Homo sapiens: one gene and its partner. The protein of the gene in region 1 interacts with the protein of each later gene in a pairwise test. Each region holds a gene or a part of one and is shown in the gene's direction. Other genes may lie near its edges.

Region 1 (7,023 bases):
CTTAGGGTAGTTTCTGATAGATATGTAGTAAGCACCAGGTCAACATTAGCTAAGGTAGAGTTCTGTGACCTTGGACAAGTAAATTCACTTCTCTGAGTCTCTGTTTCCACATTTGAAAAAGACAATGAAGATGAATGTATTTCATGGAGTTGCGAGAATTTGCCCCTGGGCTTCATGTATTAATGAGCATTCAACAAATAGTTCCTGGAATTAATTAGTATTATTGGTCTCTCTGCATCACTGCATGTGACTTCCAGCCAAGCAAGATTGGGCAGGAAGGATTGGGTGGTGGTGAAGAGCGCAGGATATAGAACTAGGCTGCCTGGGTTCTTATTCTGCCTCCACCATTTATTCTGTAACTTTAGGACAATATGTTTAGCCTCTCTGTGTCTCAGTTTCCTCTTCTACGAAATGTTATTCTGATGACACTTCTTCAGGAGCTCTGTGAGGATTAAATGAGATGCTACATGTAAAAGGCTTAGGAAATGTTAGCCACTTAATTCTACTTTGGAAAATTTTAATCATTGCTGTTTTTTATCTCAACTGTTTTGGCACTGTAACTAGCACATAGTAACTACTCAGTAAGTAGTTAAATGAATATCGTAAGTATTCAATATACTTCTGTTAGTACAGAGCAGTATAATAGTCAGAATTTAGGAATTAAAGCGGTCGTATGCCTGGTTTCCTAGTTATTGGAGGGTTGGAAGTTCAGTCATTCTTGTCACTTTCACAAAGAGTTCTTCTGTCTGTAGCTCCCCTCTCACTGCAGGATTGTAAGTGCTTTGCAATGTCCAGGCCTCCTGCCTCTAAGTGCTTCACACACTCTCAGTTCCCCTCTGCTTTCTCTCACTTTGCATTACTTTCTGGGTCATCAGAGATGAGGTAGAGGTGATAAGAGGAAACCAAGGACTGGGATTTGAAATAAAAAATTTAGCCTCTAGGCCCAGTTCTATCAATTTCTTTTTCTTTCTTTAATTGTAGCTATGCCCTCTTGAGCAAGTCACTTAACCTCTCTAGTCCTAAGCATCCTTCCCTACAGAATGGGAATAATATCTTCCCACATAAGATTTGTGGTAGTGGATCAAATAGGGTACAGCATGGGAAGAAACTTTGTAAAATAAATCGATAAAGCAAGAAGAGTGTTGTTATGACTATTGTAACCTCCAGATGTGAAATTGGGGGCTGGCTCCACAATCCTGACGCTTCTTTTTTTGTTTGTGTTTTGTTTTTTGAGATGGAGTTTCACTCTTGTTGCCCAGGCTGGAGTGCAATGGCGCGATCTCGGCTCACCGCAACCTCTGCCTCCGGGTTCAAGAGATTCTCCTGCCTCAACGTCCCAAGTAGCTGGGATTACAGGCACGCCCTATTTTCTATTTTTTAAATTTATTTTTCTTGAAGCACAAGAATCACTTCAACCCAGGAGGCGGAGATTGTGGCTAATTTTGTATTTTATTTATTCATTTAGTTATTTATTTTTAGAAGAGACGAGGTTTCTCCATGTTGGTCAGGCTGGTCTCCAACTCCCGACCTCAGGTGATCCGCTCACCTCAGCCTCCCAAAGTGCTGAGATTACAGGCATGAGCTGCACCTGGCCAATCCTGACACTTTTTTTTTTTTTTTAAGACAGCATCTTCACTTTGTCATCAGGCTGGAGTGCGGTGGCACTATCTCGGCTTACTGCAACCTTCGCCTCCCAGGTTCAAGCGATTCTCCTGCCTCAGCCTCCCGAGTAGGTGGGATTACAGGTGCGTGCCACCACACCCAGTTAATTTTTTTTGTGTGTGTGCTTTTAGTAGAGACAGCGTTTCACCATGTTGGCCAGAATGGTCTCGATCTCTTGACCTCGTGATCCGCCCGCCTCGGCCTCCCAAAGTGCTGTGATTATAGGCGTGAGCCACCATGCCCGGCCAATCCTCACACTTTTTAAAGGGCGGTTGGTTGTATAAGGACAAGAAATTAACTAACAGACCTAAAAATATCTCTTGCTTCCTTTTTCAGCTTAACTGCAGGACCCTTTGTTTAATTTTCTTCATGTTTTTCCCTTGTCATAAAAGATTTTACTTCCTTCTCCCAATGTATTTCAATTTTTGCATCTTAAAGATGCATTTGGGGCCAGGCGCGGTGGCTTAACACCTGTAATCCCAGCACTTTGGGAGGCTGAGGCGGGCGGATCACCTGAGATCGGGAGTTCAAGACCAGCCTTACCAACATGGAGAAACCCCATCTCTACTAAAAATACAAAATTAGCCAGGCGTGGTGGCACATGCCTGTAATGTCAGCTACTCGAGAGTCTAAGGCAGGAGAATTGCTTGAACCTGGGAGGCAGAGGTTGTAGTGAGCCGAGATCGCGCCAATGCACTCCAGCCTGGGCAACAAGAGCAAAACTCGGTCTCAAAAAAAAAAATGCATTTGGATACTACTTCACAGCCTCCAGGATGGGTATAACAAAAAAGACAGTCACAAGTGTTTGTGAGGATGTGGAGAAATTGTGGAGAAATTAGAACCCCTACACACTACTTGGTGGGAATGTAAAATGGTACAGCCCCTTTGGAAAAATATTTGGCAGCTCCTCAAATATTAAACATAGAGTTATCATATGACCTAGAAATTCTGCTTTTAGGTATATACCCAGGAGAAATGAGAAAACATGTCTACATAAAAACTTGTACACAGATGTTCATAGCAGTACTATTCATAATAATCAAAAACAGGGCTGAGTGCAGTGGCTCACGCCTATTAATCCCAGCACTTTGGGAGGCTAAGGTGGGTGGATCACCTGAGATCAGGAGTTCCAGACCAGCCTGTACAACATGGAGAAACCCTGTCTCTAATAAAAATACAAAAATTATCTGTGCGTGGTGGTACATGCCTATAGTCCCATCTACTCAGGAGGCGAGGCACAAGAATAGCTTGAACCCAGGAGGCAGAGGTTGCAGTGAGCTGAGATTGCACCATGACACTCCAGCCTGGGTGACAGAGCAAGATTCTGTCTTAAATAAATAAATAATCAAGGGCCGGGCACGGGGACTCATGCCTGTAACCAGCACTTTGGGAGGCCGAGGTGGGTGGATCACCTGAGGTTGGGAGTTCAAGACCAGCCTGACCAACATGGAGAAACCCTGTCTCTACTAAAAATACAAAATTAGCCGGGCATGGTGGCTCATGCCTGTAATCCCAGGACTTTGGTAGGCTGAGGCGAGTGGATCACGAGGTCAGGCATTCAAGACCAGCCTGGCCAAGATGGTGAAACCTCGTCTCTACTAAAAATACAAAAATTAGCTGGGCACGGTGGCAGGCACCTATAGTCCCAGCTACTTGGGAGGCTGAGGCAGAAAAATTGCTTGAACCCAGATGGCAGAGGTTGCAGTGAGCCGAGATTGCGCCACTGCACTCCAGCCTGGGTGACAGAGCGGGACTCCGTCTCAAAATAAAATAAAATAAAATAAAATAAAATAAAATAAAATAAAATAAAGAAGCCCAACAATATCACTATTCTCTTTCTAGCAATGGTAGCAATTATAATAATAACAATAACACTTACATGGCACCTATTACCTGGTAAGGACTCTTCTAAGCACTTTATGTATGGTAATGCCTTTAATCTTTATAGCAACTCTATGTAGCAGATACCTTTATTACTTTTATTTTGTAGATTAAAAAATTGAGGAAAAGATCATTTAAACCAACAGGCCATAGATTATTCAGCCAGAAAGTTACGGTAGAGTTGAGTGTTTCTGCTCTTAAGCACTATGATAAGCTACAATACTGTTCCCAACTAGTGACTTAGAGGGTTAAAAAAAATGAAACACTAAAACAACTTTAAAACAGAATCATGTATATGAGAATATCACATTGCAGTGTGACAACTTTGGTAAATAAAAAAGTAGACAAGTAGCTTTTCCATTCTGTTGGGGAAAATCTGATTTATTCCTGTGAGTATTTATATTTTGACAAGGTAGGATTGTCACTTTCTCTACTAAATATTAAACTCAATCTTTCTGACATGTGGTTTTAAAAAGTGAATTTGGACTCCACTGATTCAGAATTTGTAACCATTTTAATGGGAAGATAAATTGCAGTTCTATTTTGCCATCTGTGAGAATGGGAGTAGGGTAAGGAAGAGAATTCAGAATGTATAATAAAGGGAATGCTTAAATAGAGAGAAAATGCATCAATCATTAATTTCACTTTAATTCATTTAATTTCATTAATTCATAATTAATTTCACTTTTGCTCCTCTACCAAGATGAAGTGTGCTGATTACAACAATCTTATCCAATCACTAAGGCTGACTTCCCAAAAGCAACTTACTAGGCTATGAATTTAGTTAGCTAAGTTGGAGGAAATGCAGTTCTTTCAAATTGTTTGTCACCTTTGCCTTTTTTCTATAACAGGCTGCCTTTCAGGCTCTTACAGGCTTACTATTGTCTTTTTAATAAAAACGTCTTTAATAAATATTGAATTGCTTTCCTAAATTTGCTTTGCAAATGTTAATGCAGTTTTCAGAAAAAAGGTAAAAACAGGCCAGGTGTGGTGGGTCAGGCCTGTAATCCTGGCACTCTGGGAGGCCGAGGTGGGCAGATCACTTGAGGTCAGAAGTTCCAGACCAGCCTGGCCAACATAGTGAAATCCCGTCTCTGCTAAAATTACAAAAAAATTAGCTGGGGGTGGTGGTGCGTGCTTGCAGTCCCAGCTACTCTGGAGGCTGAGGCAGGAGAATCGCTTGAACCAGGAAGGCAGAGGTTGCAGTGAGCTGAGATGGCACCACTGAACTCCAGCCTGGGAGACACAGTGAGACTCTGTCTCAAAAAAAATAATAAAAAAAAAAAAGGTAAAATGGGCCTTTGAACCAAAGATCAAGCTCTAATAAATCGAATATGAGATAAGGAATTTAGAGCATACACAACAGGACAAGGAGAAATAATTCATTTTATTCAAGTAGGCACCTAAGGAACTTTACGGTTGGTATAAGAATATCTTAGGGGGTGTCCCTTAGAAGCTAGGATTGAAATTTTCTTCTCCTAAACAGCAGAGAGATATCCTGGAGTCAGTAAATTACTGCCTATACAGATTTTTGAAAAAGAAGGGCTTTAGGAAATGAAGAGTCCCTGTATTTGGAGTCAATGGTCAAGAGCCTAATTCATGTAGAATGTTTATTCTATTTTTATTTATTTATTTATTTATTTATTTTTGAGATAGGGTCTCACTCTGTCACCCAGGTGGTGTGCAGTGGTGCAATCGCGGCTCACTGCAACCTCTGCCTCCCAGGTTCGAGTGATTGTCCCGCCTCAGCGTCCTGAGTAGCTGGGATTACAGGCAAGCGCCACCACGCCCGGCTAATTTTTTAATTTTTAGTAGAGATGAGGTTTCTCCACGTTGGCCAGGCTTGTCTCGAACTCCTGACCTCAGGTTTTCTACCCGCCTTGGCCTCCCAAAATGCTGGGATTACAGGGATGAGCCACTGCGCTCGGCCTTGTAATTACTTTTCTAAAAGGCCATTGCTGATATAAGTTATGGCTTCCATCAGCTTTGGAATCAATAAAACTGAAAATAAGTTAAACCTCAAGAGAAGAGAATGCAAGGTGAAGGAAGGTCATTCTTCTGTCCTGTTGTGTTATTTCTTTTTTAATTTTTTAAATTTTAGAAAAAAATACATTGTTTTATATCTTTTTTTATTATTTATTTTTATTTTTATTTTTTTAGACAGTGTCTCACTCTTGTTGCCCAGGTGCAGTGGCATGATCCTGGCTCACTTCAACCTCTGGGTCCTGGGCTCTTGTGATCCTTCCACCTCAACCTCCCAAGTATCTGAGACTCAAGTATCTGAGACTCAGGCATGTACCACCACACCTGGCTAATTTTTGTATTTTTTGTAGAGATGGGGTCTTGCCATGTTGCGCAGGCTGATCTCAAACTCCTGGACTCCAGCAATCCTCCCACCTCAGCCTCCCAAAGTGCTGATATTAGAGGCCATCAGCACCAGCTTCTTGTCCTGTTCTTTCTAGCTTTCATTTGAGTCAGGAGTTCATTTCCCCTTCATTGGTGGCTCTTAAATGGTTGGTTTCCATGAGTTTAGTGATTAGGAAATGACAAAGGAAAGAACAATCGGTCCTACTTTCTACACGGTAATTATACTTTTCCGTGTTCCATTATCTACCAAGGAGAGGTGGGTACCAAATCTGAGATCCTTGTTCTAGTATTATCAGCCTTAACTAAACTTAGAAGTTTATGGCAGTGATTGTTTCTATGTATCATTAGATACACGGGGGACATCGTGAAGATGGAGTTGGGGAGAGGATTTAGTGGGACAGATAGGATGCTTGCAAGGTGGTACCTTCAGGATCAACTTGAGCTATTTTCATCAGGGCTGGCTGCAGAGAATCACTTTTTGGTAGCTTTACAAATATTTGTGAGGTTGGGTGGGGAGATGAGGAGAGAAAACACACCCTGCAGTGTGAGACAAGATATGCTTTAGGGCCGGGCGCGGTGGCTCACCCCTGTAATCCCAGCACTTTGGGAGGCCGAGGCGGGCGGATCACGAGGTCAGGAGATCAAGACCATCCTGGCTAACACGGTGAAACCCCGTCTCTACTAAAAATACAAAAACATTAGCCGGGTGTGGTGGCAGACGCCTGTAGTCCCAGCTACTCAGGAGACTGAGGCAGGAGAATGGCGTGAACCCGGGAGGTGGAGGTTGCAGTTAGCCGAGATCGCGCCACTGCACTCCAGCCTGGGCGACAGAGCGAGACTCGTCTTAAAAAAAAAAAAAAAAAAAAAAAGAAGGATATGCTTTAGTATTCCCACTTTTCAGATAACAGCTGTTGCTAGGGTGTAGCAAAAGGGAACAAATGTCATGGCCTCTAGCTTGGGGAAGCCCGTGGCAGCTGCAGAGGAGGAGGTAGGTAGCAGCTGAGGGAGGCTCAAGGCTCAAGTCTTTCCACCTATAACTCTCAGGCTGCTACTTATAGATCTGTTTGACTGTGTTTGTTTGCTTTGATCCTTGTGTCCTCCTATCTCCCTGCA
Region 2 (7,028 bases), on another chromosome or scaffold:
AGTAGAGACGGGGTTTCACCGTGTTAGCCAGCCAGGATGGTCTTGATCTCCTGACCTCTTGATCCGCCTGCCTCGGCCTCCCAAACCATAGTGCTGGGATTATAGGTGTGAGCCACTGCGCCCAGCCTTTTTTTTTTTTTTTTTTTTTTTTGAGACGGAGTTTTGCTCTGTCGCCCAGGCTCAAGTGCAGTGGCACGATCTTGGCTCACAGCAACCTCCACCTCCCGGATTCAAGCAATTCTCCTGCCTCAGCCTCCCGAGTGAGTAGCTGGGATTAGAGGCACCCACCAGCATGCCCAGCTAATTTTTTGTATTTGTAGTAGAGATGGGGTTTCTCCATGTTGGACAGGCTGGTCTCAAACTCCGCACCTCAGGTGATCCACCTGCCTCAGCCTCCCAAAGTGCTGGGATCACAGGCGTGAGCTACCGTGCCCGGCCGAGAAATTTTCATTTTATAGGCCATCTAAACACGCACTCACTGAGATGCCCAAACAATTTTTTTATTTTTAGAAGCTTGGCAAGTTCATCAAAGTTCACACACAATATAAACTAGACAACACATTCTACTATCTCTTTAAAATATACATTTTTTCTAATATTTGAGCTACAATAATTGAATCTTTTTCCACTGAAGTGTCAAGTTTTTTCAAAGAAGAACCACAGGAAAAAAAAATTTCAAAAGTGTTTATGGAATCCCACCCTAGACGGGGCTCTAGACCTGCCATTCACTGTCAGCCCCGTATGTGACCACTCTGCTTTCTCCTGGAGTAGGCCCTTCACCTGGGATTTCACTCATCCTCACTACTGGCTCACAGTTGTACAGATAAGGAAACTCCTTTTCAGAGAGGCCCATCATTCGGTCAGCCACGGAGTTCAAAATGCAGGTAGTTTCAAGCGCAGGTGAAAATGGTTTTAAGTGGCCATGGGTGATCAAATAAGATTTCTCCCTCAACATACATTTCACACTGCAGTGAATGTCCCTAAAGGGCTGTGACCACCTCCCACCCCCATTTTTTTAGAGACATGTCAATGCTCTAATTACCACTTCCAGATTCTCCCACCTCGAATACCAGGGTTGGCGCACGCAATGTTCATGTGAGGCCCTTCACGAGGGGGTTCATCTGAGAGGGTGATATTCAAATCATAGGCATCTTTATTATTGAAAACAGTTTTTAAAATATTATAACTGTTGGCTCCAAAGACAGCCTTTTTACATATTAATTGCAATAATTTTCTGACAAAATTTTTGTTTTAACTGAGAATATATATGTGATGTGCTTTACAAAAGAGAAATGAGTGTGATAATCAAAAGGCCTTATAGGACATCTAAAATAAAGTGTCCTTCTAACTAAAGAGCTGCTTTTCTGACTGATGAATGGATTAGGAAGTAGCTTAAAATGGAAGTAACTCTCTATTGAGATTAGTGCACTGGCTAAATCTGAGTTTGATGTTGTAGCATCTATCACCTGCTTTTTATATTCTACACTAAATGGTATGACTGAGTGCTCCCACAAAAATCCACAAGTAATTTCTATGTAATAACCGATATTAATTTGTCATCATAGTCCACAAATATTACATAGACAAATTAGAGTTATTACACATTATTACATAAATTATCAAATGATTAGATATTAATAATTAGCATTACATAAAATACAATATAGTAATTAATTGTGGAAACTTCAGTAGTATAAAAACAGACTTGCTAAAATGTAGTGGCTTTTTGTCATTCACCCTTTGAAGGAATGCAATTTATTTACAGTAGTAATTTCACAAACATATTGCTGAAAACTTGTGTAGCTCTCAGGAAAAAAATTAACTTTATCAATGAAGCAGCCTCATTGTGTGGGCTGACACCAAGGTTTGCTGTCTCACAGGGAGATCAAGGATGCAGACACACAAAGAGTGAGGTTAAGAGCCGAAATGTAATAGGCGACAAGAAAGGGAATAAGCTCTCCGCTACAGAAAGGGGTCCCCGGGTTGCCAATTCGCTGTGAAATATTTTTTATAGAATTTTATAGATGAGCTAATGGGGAGGCAGTCTGATCTACATAGGGCGTGAAAAACCAGTTAGGACCAGGTGTGCCATCTGCATAGGGCATGAATCTCTGGCAGCCCCCACCCCAATCTTTTACTACGCAGGTGGGTTCTCTGACTGAGCTTTTCCATATCGCCCATCTCTTTCTTACTGTACACGTGCTAACAAAAAAGGGGAGATGGAGATTCCATGGTGGACATGCCTGGCCCCCAGGTAGCCCTTTTCTATCAGCGCAGCTGCTGGCATCCACCCGCACGCTGCCCCCCAACCCCCTGCGCCCTGGTGTGCACGCTTCCAGCTTCCTGATCTATCTTTGCAAGGTTTGCAGGCTTTCAGGCTGCTCTTTGTTAGAAAAAAAAATGATTTCTTGAGCTGTTTTTTGTTAGAAGTTCTGCTGAAGACTCTTTTGCCCTATCTGCCTAAATAATTTCTATCTCCTGAATCATCAATATCAATCAGCAATGCAGACCATAAATTCTCAAAATTATAATTTATTAAAATTGTCTACAATGCCACAAGAAAGTCAAATCTTCTAGAGCCCATTTTTTTCTTTCTTTCTTTCTTTTTTTTTTTTTTTTTTTTGAGACAGAGTGTCGCTCTGTGGCCCAGGCTGGAGTGCAGTTGCACTATGTCGACTCACTGCAGCCTCTGCCTCCTGGGTTCAAGTGATTCTCCTGCCTCAGCCTCCCGAGTAGCTGGGATTACGAATGTACTCCACCATACCTGGCTAATTTTGGTATTTTTAGTAGAGACAAGGTTTCACCATGTTGGTCAGGCTGGTCTCGGACTCCTGACCTCAGGTGATCCACCCGCCTCGGCCTCCCAAAGTGCTGGGATTACAGGTGTGAGCCATCATGCCGGACCTAGAGCCCATTTCTTTTCTTTTTTTTTTTTTTGTTTGTTTTTTTTTGTTTTTTTGAGACGGAGTCTGGCTCTGTTGCCCAGGCTGGAGCACAGTGGCGCCATCTCGGCTCACTGCAACCTCCGCCTCCTGGGTTCAAGCGATTCTCCTGCCTCAGCCTCCTGAGTAGCTGAGATTACAGGCGCGTGCACTAGAGCCCATTTCTATAAGAAACAAATTAGAGGAAGTAAGCACTGAAACTATCATAAGAAGTTTCATTTCAATGAAAGCAAGCCATCATGTATTACTTATTATATATTATATGTTATTATATAGCAAATTATGATATCCTGGTGATTGTGATTTTGAATTTTAATTTTCTATGTGTGATGGTTTACTACAAAATAAATAATATATACTCGTTTAAAACTTTAAAGAGCACCATTTTCTGATGGGCAGGAGGATTAGCTGGGGGCACGCACCCAGTCCTTGGTTAAAGGAGGTCAGGTTTCCCGTGAACGCAACATCAATCCTGCACGTGATACACCAGGTGCGTAAAAATTAACATGCTTAGACAAAGGAAGCCCACCGTCGCTTCCCACAGCTTTCATGAGCATATTTTAATACATGTTTAGGTTAATTCATTATTGAAAAATAGGAGTCTTCTTTTCATTGCAGCAAACAAAAGTCCTTTCACAATATTGGTCATGGGCCGTTCAAATCCCCAAATGCTGAAACTCCTCTGAGGGATGCGCTGAAATGAGAGGACTAAGAATTAAAAAAAAAAAACAACAGCGATGAAGTGGAGATGTGGAAAGGCAAAGGGAAAGCTCTCAGGCGTGTGTCCGTCCCCGGGCGGTCCCTTTCTCCGCACCGCTTTGGTCCGGCGGGTACCGCAGCGAGTCCGAGTGTGAGCAAGCCCGTCCCGGACAGCCGCGCGCGTGTGCGGGGAGGCGCCCAGGTGGGCTGTCCCAGGCCAGGTTCCCAGGGAAGCTCTCGGGGAAGCGTCCGGAGTGAGGAGGGACCCACCGGGACCCCACCAGGGACCCCAGCCGAGCGCGCGCCGCCGAGGGTGGGGGTGGGGCCGGCGCCCCGGCCACCCGGTTACCTGGCGACAGGATGCCCTGCGCGGGGCGGCGGAGCGGGTGCGTGCGGCGGCGGTTGCGAGAGAGATGAGCCGCGGCGATGAGCCCGGGTAAGAGTTGGACGGGGCGGGGCTCCTAGGGGAGCCGCGGGAACGGAGGGCAGCAGAAGGGCATTCAGCAGGCGGCTCCCCGCTCGAAAACCCGGGACATCCCGGGTCCGCCCTTCTGCACTCGCCGCACATCTCCCGCTCGGCCCTAGGGCTGAGCACCCGCTGCGGCCCCCTGCGTCCGCTGTGGCTTACAGGCTGGCTACGTGGTCTGCCGCCGCCGCCCGCCCAGCGCGCCCTCGGGTGGCCGCTTGCGGAAAGCGCCGCGCCCCGCCCCAGGCCCGGCCTGATGCCGTCCCTCCGCCCCATCCCTCCGCCCCGCCCCAGCCTTCAGCCTTGACCCCGCCCCATTCCTCTGCCCCCACAGGTCCCGCCCAGTCTCTCCGCCCCATCCCATCCCTGCGCCCCGCCCCAGCCTTCAAACCCGCCCCCTCCTAATTCCCTCCGCCCCGCCCTCCCCGCCCTCCCCGCCCCCCCGCCCCAGCCTTCAGCCCCGCCCCCTCCTAATTCCCTCCGCCCCGCCCCAGCCGTTAGCCCTGCCCCGCCCCATCCCTCTGCCCCGCCCCCACCTTCAGCCCCGCCACGCCACGACCCGCGACAGAACAGCCCCGGACGGTTCTGTTACAGAAAAGCAGCACCGGGAAGAGGATGAAGTTGACTCCGTTCTCCTTTCAGCGTCCAAGATCCTAAATTCTTCGGAGGGGGTGAAGGAAAGTGGCTGCAGTGACACAGGTAAAATCGCCAGACCGTAAAAGGCTCCTTTAACTATACACAGGCGGCAGCATCTGGCCTGTGCCACCTGCTCACCTGGCGTGCTTCCCACGGCCGTGATGACACGGACAGCAGCCACCACGGCACTCGCGCTTTGTGCCAGTGCTGTTCTAAGCACGTAATGGATCAACTGTTTAATTCTCACAACACTTTTACGAGGTGGGTGCTACCACGATCCCCATTTTGCAGATAAGGAAACGGGCACAGAGAGGTTAACTCCCTAAGGTCACACAGGCAGCGAGGAATGGAGCGGGCATTCAGCAGGGCGGCTCCGGACTGCCTGTCTTCACCACCACGCTACGCTCCGTTGCTTCTCTGAATGCTAAGTAAGAATTGTTGAGTTTTTTGGACACACACTAAAACGATATGCAGTCAGCCCTCGGTATCTGGGAGTTCCGCATCCTTGGATTCAACCAACCACAGATGGAAAATATTCAGGGGGGAAAATTTTTAAAAATAACAGTACCACAATTTTTAAATGCAAATTTTGAACAGTATAACAGCCATTTACATAGCATTTACATTGTATAAGGTATTACAAGTAATCGAGAGATGATTTAAAGTATACAGCAGGATACACATAGAAGCTATGCAAATACTACCCCATTTTGTATTAGGGACTTGGGCATCTGCAGATTTTGCTATCCGCAGAGGCTCTGGAACCAATCCCCTGTGGATATCCAGGGAGGGGTGTATACCTTTTCTAAAGAAAACTACTTTTTATAGTAAATATTTACGGACTACAGGATATTATATGGGGAGGATGTTTGAAATAGCCACATAGCTAAAGCTTTCAAGCACCACATAAATTATGAATAAGATGGGGGTACCCAGCTAGGGGAATCTGAGGACATTGAAGGTGGAGTCCCAGGCGACTGACTACACGCCTCTCAGAGGAGCCTGCTGTGAGGGGACATGCCGGGGAAGGAGCAGAGCACGGGGCAGGAGAAGGGTCTAGACTGATGTGCCATGCCCGGACCCCCAGTTGCCCCTCTGTAGGATATGGGCAATCCTGATGCCAAAGTGCTGAACCACAAGAGGACTGAGGTTGGGACAGGATTTCTGCACCTCCACCATGCAAGATCTTCACAAAAAGCCTTGTCAGGGCCCGGAAAGAAGAGACTAGAGCAGCCACACCTCAGTAGACAGAAGACACCCGGGTGCCCAGGCACTACCAGGATGAGCAACACCCCAGTGGAGGCCAGCAGGACAGGCACTGGCCAGTCCCCTCTCCGCCCTCCTGCCTCCACCCTTGAGATATGCAGGTTTCCCTGGGCAACCAGGAGGGGCAAAGGGGCCCCCTGAACGAAGGAGAAAGAGTCCTCACAGAGAGTTGAGACATTGAGGTAGCTCCGTATTTACCTCAAAGAGAGCATGTAAGGTCAGAAGAAATAGAAGTACCTTAATTTGGCAAGATCACATGTTTTTTGACATGAATGAGGCTTAGGGTTCTGGAGAAAGATGCCAACATTTATAGAAAATAGTTACATGCAAAATAGCACATGTACATGTTTAAGAGTTACAGTCTTTCTTGCCAGAACACAGTGTTTACAGGTCTGGGGTTGACACAGGACAGGTTCTTAATAAACACCAGTTATCTTGAGTCAGGGGCCACCCAGGAATTTCCTGCCTGCAACTATAGGCAAAACTAGGAGGTATGGCTGGCGCCCTTCTCTCTACTCTCCTACTGATGCTTTCATTGTCACCAAGTGATCCATTCCCCGTGTACTGAGAAAATAATGACCTGATTTGCATAACTACTGCCAGGTTACAAAGAGTTATAGAATGTTCCCAAGGTGTCTCTGATTTCAGAACTAGTGGTTAACCTAATTAACCCTTATTGGAATGGGTTTGTGAGAGACTTTTGAATTTGAGGGTGTCCAGGGTGTTGTTCCCAGCACCCTGTTGTACCCGAGCTTTCATTCATTCATTCGTTTGTGGAGCATATTCTTTTGAGCACCTGCTAAGTTTCAAGTGCTGTTCTAGGTGCTGGGGATCCAACAGTGAACAAGACTTGCAAGATTCCCTGCCCACATGGAGCTTACCTTCTAGTGAGGGAACAGACAGACAAAGGCTATTGTGTGTAAGCGGGGAATAAATTCTATGGAGAACATAAGGCTGAGAAGGGGGGGAGGAATATTTGGAGTGGCAGAGGTGGGTGGGAAGTGTGTCATTTTAAACAG

The links. Proteins that work in one complex are often made in the same cells at the same time.
Region 2: the proteins of DEPTOR (region 1) and CCDC110 interact in binary tests that used the Homo sapiens proteins (3 or more experiments, as listed by UniProt).

What each region holds. Positions count from the first base shown.
Region 1 is NC_000008.11:119,876,718-119,883,740, forward strand, and holds part of DEPTOR (DEP domain-containing mTOR-interacting protein), read left to right. Parts: intron 1-7,023. UniProt on the Homo sapiens protein: Negative regulator of the mTORC1 and mTORC2 complexes: inhibits the protein kinase activity of MTOR, thereby inactivating both complexes. DEPTOR inhibits mTORC1 and mTORC2 to induce autophagy.
Region 2 is NC_000004.12:185,468,723-185,475,750, reverse strand, and holds the start of CCDC110 (coiled-coil domain-containing protein 110), read left to right. Parts: upstream 1-4,017; 5' UTR 4,018-4,067; coding exon 4,068-4,077; exon of another isoform or gene 4,078-4,320; intron 4,321-4,635; exon of another isoform or gene 4,636-4,701; coding exon 4,702-4,806; intron 4,807-7,028.